2 separate regions of the Homo sapiens genome follow, and region 1 is linked to region 2. Evidence: fine-mapped expression QTL. Tissue or cell type: whole blood. Region 2 holds a variant in brackets; the other region holds the start of a gene. All regions are shown on one strand. Distances are between the middles of the regions.

Region 1 (8,446 bases), 29 kb after region 2:
GCAAAGCTGAAAATACTTACTGTTTGCCCCTTTATAGAAATAGTTTACTGACCCATAATCCAGCCAAATTAACATACACAGTAAACTATAATCTTACCTCCCTCGCTGAGGCAGGTCTCAGGCAAATGTCAGTTAAGTGGATCCCAGAAGGCTAACATAAGCAGGATGAATTGTTAAGTGTACATATGGTTTTCAATGTATTCTGAGCTGTTGGTTTTTTTTTTTTTCTTAAGGCTACTGTTTTAGCCAGTTTTGTATTTCCCATGCAACTTCTTTTAGTACACATCTACATTTTACATGCAGAAAAAGCCTCTCTGGTTAAGCAGTGCTAGCTCTAGCAAGGAAGGGTTTATGGAACCAAAACTCTTTAGAGTTGTCTTTAGTTACTAAGGGTATACAATGCATCAGGGGTAAGGGTTCATGTCTAGTGCTATCCCCAGCAAGAATAATGATCATGTAATAAGGGTACCGATTGGGCATTCAATAGTGATGTTTATTAACCTCAAAGAAGATGAGTAGGGAATGGAAAATCATCAGTGTCGCTCCCTCAGCCATAATGGCTTGGCCAGGTAGAGTCAAGGCTGATTAGGACCAAAGACAAAAGCTGGTCTCTCTGTAACCATTCCTTTTAGGATTGTTTGAATGCCAGTCTCCAGGAACAGCAGAGAATGAGGTAAGGCCATCATACTCTTATTTCTTTTCCAATTTTCTGAGTAAGGGCTTGCCTCTAATCAAGTCAAACAGAAGCCTGTGTCACTGTCCTGACGCTATAAGTAGTTAAAGTCAGGCTGATAAAAATATATGGACAAGGCTATGAATGAAATAGGAGCATACCTTAAAAACAGAAATTTAGGTTAAGTAGGAAACAGAAACCTACTAGGTTTTAAGAGCTAGCCTAGCATGAAGGAAGTGCAAAGAAAATGGCTTTATTGTTGGTATTAAAAACTGACTAAAAAAACCTGAAGTTGAACTCCCGGTAAGACAACCGCAGTAATCAAGACAGAAACTATGATTCACCTAATGGATATAGTTAAGCCATGTTAACAAAGACCAAGGTGAAGAAGAAAAGAGTAAATACAGTACGTTCTCATTTTGCTAAAAGAAACTGTGTGGATTTTAAGAATTGTTTATGTACAGAAAAAAGTCTGGAAATTGTTAACAGCGGCCATTCTGGGGAATGGAACTGGAGACCGAATTCTTAAATTCATGTTTCTGTATATGTTGACTTTTCTGCAATGAGATAGTATTACTTTTTGAATTTTATTTTTATTAAGATGCCAAAAGCTTAAACATTTGTAAGAAAAGTAGGGGACTGCCCTAACCACTCAGATGAATAGGACAAAGGATAATAACAACAATAGTCATCTCTGAAGCACATCCTGAGTGCTAGGTGCTGTGATAAGTACTTTAGAGAGGTTCTCCAATTCCAACAGCTGTCTGGGATAGGCGGAATACCCAAGCTACAACGGTGGAAACTGAAACTTAGAAAACAGAGATAACTTATTCAAGGTTGCACAACAAGAAGAGTTTGGTTTGACCTGAATCTGACTCCAAAGCCAATACTCTATGCTGTGAGGAGTCGCAGAGGACTCCAGGGTTTCAGCAGAGGTGTTTGACCAGTGTGTGACCACCTCAAAATCTTTGGCCTTATCTCGATTACGTGGCAGCTTCATTCATGTATCAAAGGAAATACCAAATAAAAATTCAGTGTTAGTCAAGTATAAAATTATCTGACTCTCAATATTCCTGTTAGGTTGCAACCTACTACTATTTTGTGTTTTTTCTTCAAATCCAAACTGAGGAAGTAATTCCACATTTCAATCATTTTGATTTTGTCCTGCCTAAGAAATTAAGTATTGTATCTTCCCACATGTAAATAACCCAGGCTTTATGTATATTTAAACATTTATTTTCATTCCATGCAACTAAACTTCATGATTTTATCCTCTTGTCGCTTCTGTACCATTCCTATTCTTGCAGCCTGCAGCTCAATAAATACACCTGGACAGCTACACCTACACCTATATGATAGGTGCAAGAACATCAATAGAATGGCAATTCACTATAAATCAAGATTTTGTTAGCAATCAGGACAGCCAAAGTACATAACAGGACAGGACTGAAAAAAAGTACATCAAAATCTTTGAAATTTTTGAAAATGCTGGCATAAAACAGCATAAGTATTACTGATAAAGACACTGGACTTCTTTTGCATAATGAATCTTAATGTCTTGCTTTATTTTTCACAGTATTATTGAAAACTAATAATTTTGTGTCTGCTAAGGAAATCCCAGATTTTTAAACAAAGATATCAGGTGCCTCCATATGAATGAAATTGCAAATATTCTACCAATTTTGACCTACAAAACTGGCAATTTCATATGGCTTAACCTATTTCTGAAGTAGGTAAAAGAAGGTAGAGATTAAAATAGAAGTGAAGGTCCAGCTTAAAGACATCAGAGTTTTCTTTTAAGACCCTAAAGTTATGGTTAAGAGTGAAAAGTGGTAACATTTTAATAACTGATGCTGCCAAGAAATAATGTTGGTTTAGTAAAAAGTAAAATAAAAAGGTTTCTAACGCATTTTACATGGCTCAAAAGCAAACATCAAACTTCTATCCAATGTCACGTGTACTCCCTCTTTCCTTTCAAATGATTTGAGAAAGAACCCAGTATCAAACCTTCAACTTTTTCTAAAGTGCAGAGGTTGCTGTTTGCCTCTACTCCGCTCCGAACCCCCTCCCCCCAACCAGTTCTGTGTTGTGTGTAGACATCGCTCCATTACTGTGCTTCCCATTAAATCCGTAATAAGCCAGCTGTCCACTGGCCTCGCTGGGTTTCTTGGGAATCGAGGGGCTCCCATTTCCCCGGCATCACCTACACCTGCAAAAAGACAGGCGTCCAAAGCCTGGGGAGGGCAGCGGACAGGTGCGCCCGCAAACGCGCGCCTGGACCCCGGCACCGCCTTCCCAATCCGGACCTCAGCTGCCTGAGAAACTCGGGGGTTCCGATGTCCAGGCCCTTTAGAGCCCCAAGAGCGCAGTCTCCTAATCCCTCCCTTTGTTTCTGGCCACCGCTGAAATAGAGGAGCGGGGGAGAGGCTTTCCCGACTCCTCCACAAAGCAAATGCGCGAGGAACAGAACCCCGGCTCCCTCACCTTCCGCGGCAGGGTCCCTCCCGCAACTCACCTGCTGGGTGGGAAGCCCCGCCAGGCGGAGCGCAGGACCCCTCAGGCTCGGCCCCTCCATCTCCAACGCGAACTGTCCGGGCCGTCGCCACTCCTTCAAAGGGAAGATTTGAAAAGCCCGCCCCTGGCAGGAGCCGCAGAGGACGCCAACCGCCCGGCCGTACCAAGTCCCAGTCGCAGGGGCCGGGGGCGCAGGAGGAGCCGGGCCGAAGCGCACGCGCAGTGGGCGCGCCTTGCGCTCTGCAGCTCCCGCCGCCGGAAGTTGCCGAGACCCCAGGCTCTAGCGCGGCGGGGCGGGGGAGAGGGCGGCGGTGCCGGACTTAAGTCCCGGACAGGGATGTGGGCGGGCCTGGGACGGGAGTGGGAGGGGCCGCGGGGAAAGCTTCGGCGGCGGAGCGCACCTGTCCCAGCTCAGGTTTCTGGCTGGTGGTTTTCGTGGCACGCCCTTTGCACTGGGAGCTTTCTGCCCGCATCCCACCGAAGGCCTTCCAAAGTGATCGTAGCTGGACAGACTCGAGGCTGCAGTCCCTGTACTCCCAGACAACTCAGGAACCCACAGCGTCACTAAGAGCCCACGGTCTCGTTCCTAAAGAACCAATAACATTACTCTCAAACACAGCGCTCTCTGTTTCCTCTCACCTTTCCCAGCGTTGTCACCAGGGTCACCCAGATATCATGGTTTTATTCATCAGGTTCGTGAGATACTATGTCAGGCATTTCACAAGGTCTTGTCTTTGCCCCCAGTGTTTATAATCCCAGATGTTCCCCGCCAACTACTCTGTCCACTTACTTTGTTTTCTTGCGAAGGATTTCTTTCAGCTCTCTCGCCCTCTCTTTCCCTCTCCAACATCTAAGGTGATAGCAAAATGGGGTACTATTTCTCAAGAGCCTCATTTCTTGCTGCCCTAAAGATTAGCACAAAGACCCATTTTAATTCATGGATTTTGTTAATTATAAAGGGAAACATGGGATTTTTAAAAATCAAAATGAAAGCAGCAAAGATATCACACCCTTGAAAAGTCCTTAAAATTCATTGTCCCTAGTTTATCTTTATTTCCCCCTTGAAAAGGCAAGAGGAAGCCTCTTCTTGAAGAGTCTACCAAATCAACCCTCCAGCCCTCATCGCCTAGAAACCCTTGGGCATTTTTCCTCCATAAATAGGTGCCCATGTTTTTTCATTTGCCTGGGACAGACCCTGTCTGGGTCTGTTGTCCCAATGTTGCACCAATCTTGCACTTATCCCGTAGTGGATATTATGTGGTCATTTTAACTGCAAGACCCTTTTAAAAGCAGTTGGTTTGAGAATGTACTTTAAAAATATAATGGATACCCTTCCTCAAATAGGTAAAATGCCTCTTTAAGACCTTTTGGACTAGGTGATACTAGAAGCTTCCCAGTTGGGAATGATGGTCCCCTTGCATTATGAATGACCCATATCCTTACAACAATAAAATATGTGTTCAAAATTATCAACACGGAGCTCACCTCGTTTTCTACAAACACAGGTCTGAATTTCAGAATCATTATGTGCCCTTTCCTCCAATGCACATCTCTGTCTTATGCTACCACTTTGTGGTATAATTATCTCCTACTCAGTATGAGGCTGCATGAGCCTAGCTGTAGTACCTGACTCAAAAGAAAAACACACCGCGAGCCCATCATCAGACACATAGTACTTACAACACATACAGCTCTCAGTTGCAGATCAAAATACATGTAGAAGCCAGCACTTCATTAAAACAGAGGTGAGTCAACCAGTTTAGAATTGGACACTGATAGAGGAGTATTTGATGAGTTAAAACCAGATATTTAACTGGAGATACATTTATTTATGATACTAGAAGAAAGAGATTAGGCAAGATCATATTTAGTAATTATCTGTAGAATACAGTTGTTACAAGAGACCTTTCTCTTGGGAGAAGAAGTTATGATGTGGTCCTGTTTTTATTATACACCGGGAGAGGTCCCCAGGAATTGCTTAAGTACTTAATTATTATATGATGATTAAAATACCTTGGAGTAGGACTTATGTTTCCTTATTTATCCTCAAGTCCTTACTTGTTACTGCTAATTTCATCAGCCAGTTTTCTCTGGTGTATGTAATGCACATAAAATATACTCATCCATGGAAACTACAAAATTTAAAGAGTTCATATGCAGTGGCTTCATTAGCTTGAGGATTTCTCTATCAATCTATTTATTTTACAGTTCCCAGAAAGTGAGAAGTACTACGTTTTACCATCTCAAATATCTGAGAGAGAACATTTGGGCATCTCTTAACCCATCATCCCTGGGCTCTTACAGAAGGTCGATATCCACCGAACTGCCCAGATGTAGTAGCTTCAGCTAGAGGATGAGTGATGGAATTACTGTCCTACCAATATTACTTCTCACTATAAGGTCAATATTTAATACTAATTAAAAATATACGTATATTAGTTATCCCTAATATAGCAGATAGTATTATAATAAATTAAAAACTACAGAAGCCAATCTAGATAATACCAATAGATGCCAAAGTATATTTTTCTTCTCTTATTTTCTGTATTCTTGTTTTAAACTAAGAGGCTAAAGGAAAACACTGAACTTAAAATCAGCTCTCTGTTACACAACAGATCCATTATTTTGAAAAATGTGGTTTGACACAGAACAGATAACTTGTGATTTTGAATATCCTCCTAGCCTCTCTTATAAAAAAAAAGTCCTCTTAAAAATTCTCTTGGTGCTTTCTTTTACTCATCTGTTCATCTTGTAGATAATCTGTTTAGGTTGAACTGAATAAATTAAAGTTATATTTTGAATTATATATGGAAGAAACAGAGAGAAAGAAGGAACTGAGGTCAAGGTGCTAAGCAGAAGTGCAGCATTTTCTTAAATGAATGTCTATGAATAGCTGAAGCATCACATAATCAGAAGGAGGCTATGGAATGTGGAGTCTGAGGATTTATTAGCCCGATTACCTTGGGCAAGCCACTCAGTTTTCTTATCTATAAAACAAGTATATAATACCCATCTTGTTTTTTAAAGTTGTTGGGAGACTCAGATAAGATTTTTGAGAGTGCTTTGTAAACTGTCCCACAAAAACAGGAGTTGTTACTACTGTAGGAAGAAAACATGAGTACCGAAAGGCAACTGTAAAGTACCTATAGAACTATGAGAACTGAATGAGAAAAATGTATGTGAATTGGATATATTCAAGATATATCACCTACCACTGCTAAATAATATGCTATATATAAAGAACTCCTATAAATCAATAAAAATTCAACTGGAAAATGGTCAAAAGGTATGGTAGGCATATTATAGGAGAGTAAATCCAAGTGACAAATAAAATAGGAAAGGTTGCTTAACCTTATTATTAGTCTGTGAACTGCAGATTAAGATCCCAAAGAGATATTTTACAGTCACTAGATTGAGAAATATTAAGAAATCTGATAATACTAGGGGTTGGCAAAGATGCAGGTCCAAGAGATATTATATGCTGGTGGAGGAGATAGAAATATGTCCAATCACTTTGGAAAAAACAAATTTAGAACAGTCTTGTAAAGTTGAAAATGTGTTTACCTAGCAATTCTGCTCCTTGGTATGTATCCTGTGGGAAATTCTTGCAAATTTGTATAGGCAACATTGCTTATCATAGCAAAAGTATTTTTAAAATCCAAATGCTCATTTCAGGAGCATGGATTAATAAATTGTGGTGATTTACCCAGTAGAATGTCACGTATCTTTTAAAAAATAAGCCATAATTATGTTTAGTAACATACACATAACTAAATCTTAGAAATACTGAATGAAGAGAACTAGTTGCAGAAGAGTACGCAGAATATATAATATTTGTAAACTTGAATAACAAGAGACTCTAAACAACACATTGTTTAAGGAAACAGGTGTGTGATAAAAGTTTATTCTTAACAGTAAAGGAATGCTAAAAACAAAATTCAGGCTAATGGCCAGCTTTGGAAGGAAGGCAGGAGAACAGGATAGTCACAGAGCCTGCAGATATAGAGCTACTTACTTGTCATGTTTTAGTTCTTAAGTTGGGTGATGGGTTCACCAGTATTAATTGTAATGTTTACCTGGTAACTTACATATATAACATATATTTAGTATGCATCAAACTTTTCATAATAAGAAATTTTTAATATGTAAAAAGGTCCTTGTAAATGTTAAACAATAGTGATAACGTGTGGGTTTTTTATAAAACTAATAATACATATTATTATAATATAATAATACATGTTTTAAAACTAATCAAACATATTTTGGCTTACAGAATTTGACTTGACATTTGATCCATTACCTTTGTATTTTTATTATGTGAAAGCATGGAAAACACAGCTGTAATGCATTGGTACCTATAACCAGAAAAAAGATGCTGAAGAATTGGCTATGTAGATTTATTTGTGCACACTTAAGAACCACTGCTTGGGAGAAGTAAGGGGTAGGAGTCTGGCAGAATTTGCAAGGGATGAGAGCTCTTGTCAGCAGACGGGAACAAAATTAAGTGCAATTTAAGTTATTACTGTCAGTGTGACCTACATATTACATACAATCCTGAGGAAATTCAAGTGACATTATAATCAGAATGCTCTTTACTCACCAAGCAAATCAGTCACAGGAATTAGTTGTATAACTTGAATCGGTGGTTCTTAAATTGGGGGACACAAAGACTTTGCAAGGCCTGAGTATATGTAAAGGTCTGACTGTTTAAAGGAACGCATTGTTAAGATTTTCAACTTAGGTTCCCTCATTCTGAAATTGATTGGCCTAACAACTTACCTTGCTGTCTAGGCCTCCCCTTGGTCCCCCTTTCACAATCACCTTTTCCCATTTGACAAAAGAAAGCCATCACTTCCACCCATTGCATTGTCCTGGAATATAAAAACCATCTGGAGGTCAAAGGGACCGTTAAAATTATTGGTATTGGGCCGGGATTAGTGGCTCAGGCCTGTAATCCTGCACTTTGGGAGGCTGAGGGGATGGATCACCTGAGGTCAGGAGTTCAAGGCCAGCCTGGCCACCATGGTGAAATCCCATCTCCACTAAAAATACAAAAATTAGCTGGGTGCGGTGGCAGGTGCCTGTAATCCCAGCTACTCGGGAGGCTGAGGCATGAGAATTGCTTGAACCCGGGAGGTGGAGGTTGCAGTGAGCCAAGATCACGCCACTGCACTCCAGCCTGGGTGACAGAGTAAGACCCTATCTCAAATATACGTATATATATATATTGGTATTGATTCTACATTAAGTAATAGTTAC
Region 2 (8,498 bases):
TTATCTGCACTCCCCTGTTCATTGCAGCATTATTCACAATAGCCAAGATATTGAAGAAACTATAAGAATGCAGCATTATTCACAATCGCCAAGGTATGTCCATCAATGGTAAAACAGATAAAGAAAATAAGCTACGTGTGTATACACACACACAACGGACAACCATTCTGCCTTAAAAAAGGAGATCTTGCCATTTGCTACAACACGGATGAACTTGGAGGATATTAAGTTAAATAAGCCAAGCATAGAAATGAAAATATTGTGTGTTCTCAATTATATGTGGAATATTAAAAAAAAAAGAGCTCAAAACCATAGAAATAGAGAAAAAAACAGTGGTTACCATGGGCAAGGACTGGGGGAGAGGAAATGGGGAGATATAGGTCAAAGGACACAAAATAGCAGATATGTAGGATGAATAAGTTTAGAGATATAATGTACTGTAAAAACATGAGGTGAATGTTAATCAAATCATGTTAGAGATTTTTGTTAAATAGATTTTAGCTGCTTTTGTCACAAAAAGTAACTATGTGAGATGATAGATGTTAATCTGTTTGATTATAGTAACATTTTACTATTTATATGTATCCTGTAACATCGTGTTATAAACCTCAAATATACACAATAAAATTTCTTTTTAAAATAAATAAAAGACTGCAGGGGAGCCAAGAGAAGATTGCAAAATCTCCTCAATAAGTGCAAGGTTTATGGGAAAAAAAATAAGAATTTGGAATAAGTTTATGTTAATGTATGTTAATGAGACAGAATCTCTCAGTGTTTATTTAGCATCTAAATGGCCTGAGAGAGTTACCGCAACTTTCACAGATATCAGCTTCAAAACTAGGGCAATCTTAACTCAATTTAACCAATATATACATAGGCATGTTAAAGAAAGCATAAAATACCCTGGTCATTTTGTTGCCAATACTATTTCTCCTTGTCATTCCTTTAATACATTTTTAAGGTATTTATATGTGTAATTTTCTGAAATGACTGTTCTTCCAAAAAAAATCTGCTAAACCTTTAGTTTTCATTTCTTCTTTATAAAGAGTCACTTATAGTGCACTCGTCACTGTGTCCCCTGACCCTCCCCCACTTTTGTACCTAATAACTATAAATAACATTTTACTATCTGGTTATACAGGGGAAAAATGTACTTCAAAGCATGAACTCCTTGAGAATGGGTGCTGTCTGGGTGATCTTTGTGTTCTTAATCTAGTATTGGCCTGGAATGTAGGAGGTATTAGATATATATTTATCAAATAAATACGCAAAATTCTGCAATTTTAGCAAATGTTAAGATTGGCTTTACCCTTTTTCAGACACAACGAACTACCTTTGAACTACCTTTAGCATTAAAGACTGTGGTGGTGTTACTAACAATAAAATATACTTAAGACTGCAAAAGAGGTCCATCAGCAGCAGATGTTACTTGCAGATGGAAGATCCATCAGTTTCAGAGATTTAAAAAATGGAGCACAGACTTTTAAAGATATAAATGGCCAATCTATAGTTTGAAAAAATCCCAGGAATAACTTCCAGCTATTTTTATAGTTTATTATTTGGCAACTTTTAAACATGCAGTATTCCTGGTAATGACTAACAAATGTCAATATTTAGAGAAAAACCAGAGATTCATAAATATTGAATACTTATTAAAAACAATCATCATAACAAAAAGCACATTTTTCAACATGTAGAACATTTGTCAGCAGTTATTTTTAGTACAATTTAAAATATTTACAGAATTCTCAAAAAATTATAAATCATGTGTTGTCTTCCTCAGTAACTTCTATTGTTCTTTCCCTGGAAAAAAAAGTCTGATTTTTGTCTCCATGATCAAAACAAACAATAGCAAAATGATGTGAAGAAAAGGGCCCATCAACTGGTAATTTTGGCAGAAAAAAAAGTTCACTAGCAATAGTTGATAATGGAAATAAATGTATTCAGATAACCAAGAAAAAAGTAATTTTTTTAGCCTCAATTATATAAGCATTTGGGGATATGTTTTGGATCCTAAATAAATTCCTTTGGTTCAATACAGCTTGTAAGAAGGCCTGAATTACTACTTATAACTCAGAACAATGCATTTTATTTTTCCAGGCTATACTATTACTATGAGACACTGGACCAGAAGCTACAAAATATGGTTTACTATAGGTTTTTTTAATGTTATGTGAGTGGCAAAACTAGGCCTCTAAAATCTCACCTGTCTAGCTCCATAGCTGAAAATGGCAAAAACCATGCACATGGATTTTTATATTAATAGTTAGTAGCTATTAACATTTAGATCTAAAGATCGTGTCTTTAAAAGTCTAAAATACAAATCCCACACTGATTTAGGCACATAGAACCTTTGAAGGAGGGCAGGAAAAACTATGTTAGTTAAAAATGATTTCTATGGCTACCCAAGGAGTTCCTTCTTGTTCTGTATTATGACCACAATAAAATGAGCCTGTAAAAGAGCAGGGACAATAAAAACAGCCCTGAGATCACCCATTTTTTTTTATTGCTTTGAAGTACATGAAAGAAGTGCACCATAAGAAAAAGAACACCCCAAAATTTCAAAGTGCTCTTCCTATATAGCATGTACTTCAGGACTATCTTGTAAATAAAGTTGCTATACTATTTTAGTATTTCTGCAACCAAATATCCTACATGAGATAAAAATCCTGTTTTATGCTTAAATTCTCTCTATATCAAATAACATTACAGGATATTCTGTTGTATGCATAGCTTTGTTAATAACTGAACTATATTTATTAACAATTTAAAAATGGGTCATATCTAATAAGTCAAATATTTACTGCTAATAGTAATTACAAGATTTCCATTTTTATTTCACATCAGAAAACTGCAGATAGAGAAATGGACTTCTTCTGAACAAAATGATTTTTAAAATCATATTAAACATTTAAAGATCACTTAAACATTTAAACATAAAATGAATCCAAAGAACCAATAATAAGAACTTTCTTTTAAAAAAGAAGAATTTTAAATTATTTTTATTCTCTGAAGATTAAAAAATACTTACAATATGGTTACATTTTCAAAACATATATCTGTGATTGTTTTATCCACATTCACCACATCAGTATCAAACACATTAGCTCCCATTTTGAATAAACAAAAAATGGCATAGCGTCGTGATCCTGGAGGAAAAATAACAACATATTAAGCAACAATCCATGTAATAAATCATTGTTAAAATCTACTTGAAAATAAATATTAGGTTAAATATTATTAATAGATTCTTTTCATACATTGTATACTGTAACCCTTAAGTCTTACAGTGACTGTTCTCCCAGTATATAGGAATACCTTACTCAACTAGAACACAATTAAACAAGGAAGCAAAAAATAAAGTTAAATATACAGGCCTCTCAGCAGCCTAAAGAAACCACCAAACTCATAAATTTTATTCCTATTAAACTTCTTAAGCTTTAATTAATAGTAAACTTTATATACACACATGCGCGGGCATGCAAGCGTGCACACACACACTACTACTACCGCTGTCATTTTGGTTTCCAAGTCTATTTAAGAAAAAGATGTTTTTTATTAGAAGAGGTTAAGAGTAGGCACATTAACGACAGCAAAATATTTTCCACCAAACTAACAGCAAGGGAGGAAACCACAAGAAAAAA[A/AC]AAAACAAAACAATAAAATAGACATGAGAACACAAAAAACATAGCTGCTGGGCCTTTTGATTTGGTGATGTTTTAAAAAGTATTAGGTGATTAAAAGGCTAAATCCTCATTATTGAGAAAATGTAGCTCTTCAGAAAAACTTACTCTCTTTAGTAATCAGAAAGCTTTACTTAATTCCCACATGTATTCCTTTGTAAAGTAAATTATATTTCCTAATTGAATAATAAATACTAACCTGATTTTAAATTCTTCATATAAAACTAATTGTGCTTAATATGATTCAGTTTTTAAAGTACAAGGAACAAAGCTATCACAATAGACAAGAAAGATAAAGTATTATCATATCTTTCCTGCTTTGCCTCTAATAGCTAGAAATCATTCGAGGTTAATTTCCATGACCTAAGCAATACACGGATTTGTAAAGACTGTATAAAACCATAAAATATTGAAGGAAAAAAAATCAGATCAAGCTAAAAATCTTTCCCTATTTCATCCTGTTAAATAACCTGAAGTAATGAAATAAGGCAGAAAAATCTTCCAGATTCTGGTCAAATACAAGAAATGTTGGCTTTACCTTTATTCGCTAAACATTTTCTTTTGTTCCATATTTCCCTTCCCCCGTTCCCACTCTGAACCCGGTACTTACTGTCCTAGCACTGGTTCCTATCAACAACTAAAAGTACACTACATATGCACTATATTAATTAGTATCAAGTGACTGCAACATATTTATATTAAAAATCAGAAAACAGTTCAAGATGCTGCTTATTCTTTCAAATGACATCAATTTATTTCAGCAAGGAAGCAGTCTTTTTTCTCAATAATCAGATACACTACATACTAAAGAAAACATTTCAATTACAAATTAAAATCATACATACGTTCTTTATTGCTGAAGTGATCAGAGTCTTTCCACATTAGTGGTATTCGAATATCTATAAAGAAGGGAAAAAGAAATGACAAGTAATAATTTTGGTAAGTTTTATTCTTTACAGTGACCTGAACCTCTGCATTCCATAATAATTCTGACTACTATAGCTAAAATAAAGTGTTATTATTTAACAGCACATTTTCTAGACATTGTTTATAGTTTGTACTTTTAAAAAGTTAATCTGTCAAATTTTTGTGAGGTAAAAATATATTCTTCTTATAAAAATAACTGTTCTAACTCCATATATATCTGTTTCTTCCTTACTGATTAATTATGACATCTTTATCATATATGCCATTCTGAGTAAATGTCTGTTCCTTGGCTATACTTTTATGAATTTGAATCATTTATTAATTACTGTCTAGCTAAATACCAACACCATACTATTTTTCTTTTTTTTGTTTTTTGACAGGGTCTTGCTCTGTTGCTCAGGCTGGAGTGCAGTGGTGCCATCATGGCTCACTGCAGCCTTGAACTCTAGGGCTCAAGCAAACCTCCCACCTAAGCCTCCCATGTAGCTGAGATTACAGGTGTGTGCCATCTGTTGCCCAGGCTGGAGTGCAGTGGCACAATCTCAGCTCACTGCAACCTCCGCCTCCTGGGTTTAAGTGATTCTCCAGCCTCAGCCTCCCGAGTAGCTGGGACTACAGGCATGTGCCACCACGCCTGGCTAATTTTTTTCTATTTTTAGGAGAGATGGGGTTTTACCGTGTTAGCCAGGATGGTCTTGATCTCCTGACCTCGTGATCCGCCTGCCTAGGCCTCCCAAAGTGCTGGGATTACAGGCGTGAGCCACTGTGCCTGGCTGCCTAATTATTATACTTTTTTTTTTTTTTTTGTAGAGACAGAGTTCACTATGTTTGCTAGGCTGTTCTTCAACTTCTGGGCTCAAGCAATCTGCCCTCCTTGGCCTCCCCAAGTGCTGGGATTACAGGCATGAGCCACCATGCCTGGCAACACTATACTACTGTTAACTATTGTACCTTTATAATATACTTACTAATTTGTTAGATATATTTCTTTTTTGAAAACACCTTACTCTTACTTGCTAATTTCTTTATATAAATTTTAGAACAAATTTTGTCAAAATTTCCCTTTCCCAAGTGTTTTATTAGTATTCCATTATCCAAATTAATTTGGGAACTGATAACTTTATAATATTCTATCTTTACACAGAATAGCATAATAATTTGTCTTTACATTTTTATTAAGGTTATTCTTGAATAATTAATATTTTTGTTTTTTGGAGGTTTTCTTGTAAAGGGTATCTTTTTGCTATTATATTTTCTAATTAGTTATTGTTGATTTTAAGATAAACTACCACTTTTTGTATATTTATCTTGAATCCAGCCACTTTTACTGAATTCTTTATTCATTCAAATAGTGTTGCAGTAAATTCTCTTAAGTTTTGTAAGTCTACAATCTATTACCTTTTTTTTTTTGAGACAGCGTCTTGCTCTACCACCCAGGCTGGAGTGCAATCGTGCGATCTCACTGCAACCTCCATCCTCCCCTACCACCCCTGCCCCCGGGGTTCAAGTGATTCTCCTGCCTCAGCCTCTGGAGTAGCTGGGTTTACGGGCATGCACCACCACACCCGGCTAATTTTTTGATTTTCAGTAGAGACAAGGGGTTCACCATGTAGGCCAGGTTGGTCTCGAACTCCTGACCTCAAGTGATCTGCCTGCTTTGGCCTCTCAGTGTGCTGGGATTACAGGCATGAGCCACTGTGCTGGGCCTACAATCTATTATCTTCAAACAGTATTCAATTTATCTATTTATTTACTTTTTAAATTTTATTATTATTATACTTTAAGTTTTAGGGTACATGTGCACGACGTGCAGGTTTGTTACATATGTATACATGTGCCATGCTGGTATGCTGCACCCATTAACTCATCATTTAGCATTAGATATATCTCCTAATGCTATCCCTCCCCCCTCCCCCCACCCCACAACAGTCCCCAGTGTGTGATGTTCCCCTTCCTGTGTCCATGTGTTCTCATTGCTCAATTCCCACCTATGAATTTATTTTCAATAGTTTCATCTTTTATTCTTATTATTTTAGCTAGAACTTCTAAAATTGTTAAATTATATTGGCATAACAGACATTGTAATTTTGTTTTTGATTTTTATGAGAATGCTTTATTGTTTTGTAATTATGACTTGGCTGATATCCTGCCAAAAAGTCCACTTCTTCTTGCTTGACCACAGCTGCTGACTCATTTCATTTCACAACTGTACTTATTCACAGCTGTTCTTGCTCTGTTAGGATTAACAGAGCATTAACTATTTACACTATCATGGGAGGGACATGGATCCTGACTTCCTTTGCTGTACACCCACAACCTGTGGGTCAGCCTTCTTCTATCCCATGCCGAAGAGAGGAGGGTAGATATCAGCTCCACAAGAGGAGAAGCTGGATACCGATTTTCCAGGTAGTCTTGTGCTCTTCAGATAGCAATGGATTTGTAACCCATCAACTCTATTTCTGAATTCAGCTTCCAATGATAGAACTTCCTTCCAGATTCTTGCAAATGGCTCAGTTTCAGTTTACAGTACTCTAACTTTTGTCTTGTTTTATGTCTTCATTGCCATTTTAATGGTAAACTGGGAGAGTCATAATAAGACAGCTGACTTGATGCTATCAAGTCCCAGAAGTCTGTCTATCATTTTCAAAAGTGAAAACTAAGGTACTTGGTGAACTGATTTGGTTTATTCATTAAATTAGTAGTCGGTGACTAAGCTAATTACCACAATATAATTACGGTAAATACTACATTTACATATGGTAAATATTTGATGTTCAGCAGAAATAATAAATTTGTGATTTAGTTTCATAAAGACCTGGCCAGGGAGTGATGTAGCTGGAAACAGAAAACCCAGGTATTTTCTGGCTATCAATGTAATCTCAAAACATTATGACACTTTGTTGCAAATATTCATCTTTACCAAAACAAAGGTCACATTTTCATCCCAATATCAAGAAAAAATGGATTTATAAAGGTGAATTCATTTTTTATTTTGTTTTTACAAACACATACAAGATATAATTAAGTCTAGGCAAAGATGAAAAGACATTACGTAAGTATCCGATTTTCTCAGAGTTTCCGTTCCTTAATTTAAAATTATCTTTTGGAAAGAAGAAACACATGCAGAAATAAGTTCAATTTTTACACTTGAGTAATTGTGGGCAGGAAATAGTTTTTTATTTTATTTTAAATACTTTTACTTGAGCCTCCTTCTAAATGTACAGTTATTTCTAATATTATGAATTGCTACAATCAATAAACTGTTATGAAATGACAATAGATGTTGACTATCATGGCATTTGAGTGTTTAACAGCAACTTAACATATGTCATTTATATACTGAGTGACACTATATTAGAAGCAAGAAATGAAGGATATGTTTAGTTTTTATAAAATCTCAAAGATCTATAGTAATTTATTCACAAAAAATTTATTGCACATAATGAACAATACCACATAAAAATACATGTTTGATAGCAAAAGAATACAAGGATAAAACATGTTTTGTTTTGTATTATAAAGATAAAAACAAATATAAATAACTATAAAACAAGCAACAAATTTTTACATATTCCAGTTATTTTCTGAAGAATATTTTGCTTAGCTGAATGCAATTCTTCAGATTTTGGCCATTTACGTACTTTGTAAAATGTAGGTCTACCGTCCTGTGTGATAATTTTGTTTATCCAGAAAAATATTACTAGAAACAGTTCCTTAGGTGACAGTACCTCAAATGTAGCAGCAGGCTCTCTAGTACAAGACTTTTAGCCAATAACCTAGTGATTACTTAAGGACCAATGGAGGTATATACTATTGTTTCAAAAATGTACTGATAAGAAAATATTTGTAAAAGTGCATTATCTGACTAGTGTACACACGAGTCAGCCATGT

The links. PIP is the estimated chance that this variant, and not a neighbour inherited with it, causes the effect.
Region 1: RTKN2 starts here. The variant in region 2 is fine-mapped to the expression of RTKN2 in whole blood (INTERVAL, PIP above 0.99).

Annotation. Positions count from the first base shown.
Region 1 is chr10:62,265,363-62,273,808 of GRCh38, forward strand. It overlaps RTKN2 (rhotekin 2), which reads right to left and starts at 3,482. Exons shown (of 12, transcript NM_145307.4): 1 at 3,189-3,482. The coding sequence starts at 3,248. All of the region lies in intron 1 of LINC02621 (long intergenic non-protein coding RNA 2621), which reads left to right. RefSeq lists a silencer at 3,234-3,563.
Region 2 is chr10:62,236,617-62,245,114 of GRCh38, forward strand. RTKN2 (rhotekin 2) reads right to left here. Exons shown (of 12, transcript NM_145307.4): 4 at 4,526-4,579; 5 at 3,032-3,149. Among named protein-coding and RNA genes, the nearest start is that of LINC02621, 18 kb to the right of the region's middle. The variant A/AC (reference allele first, on the strand shown) is at 3,645.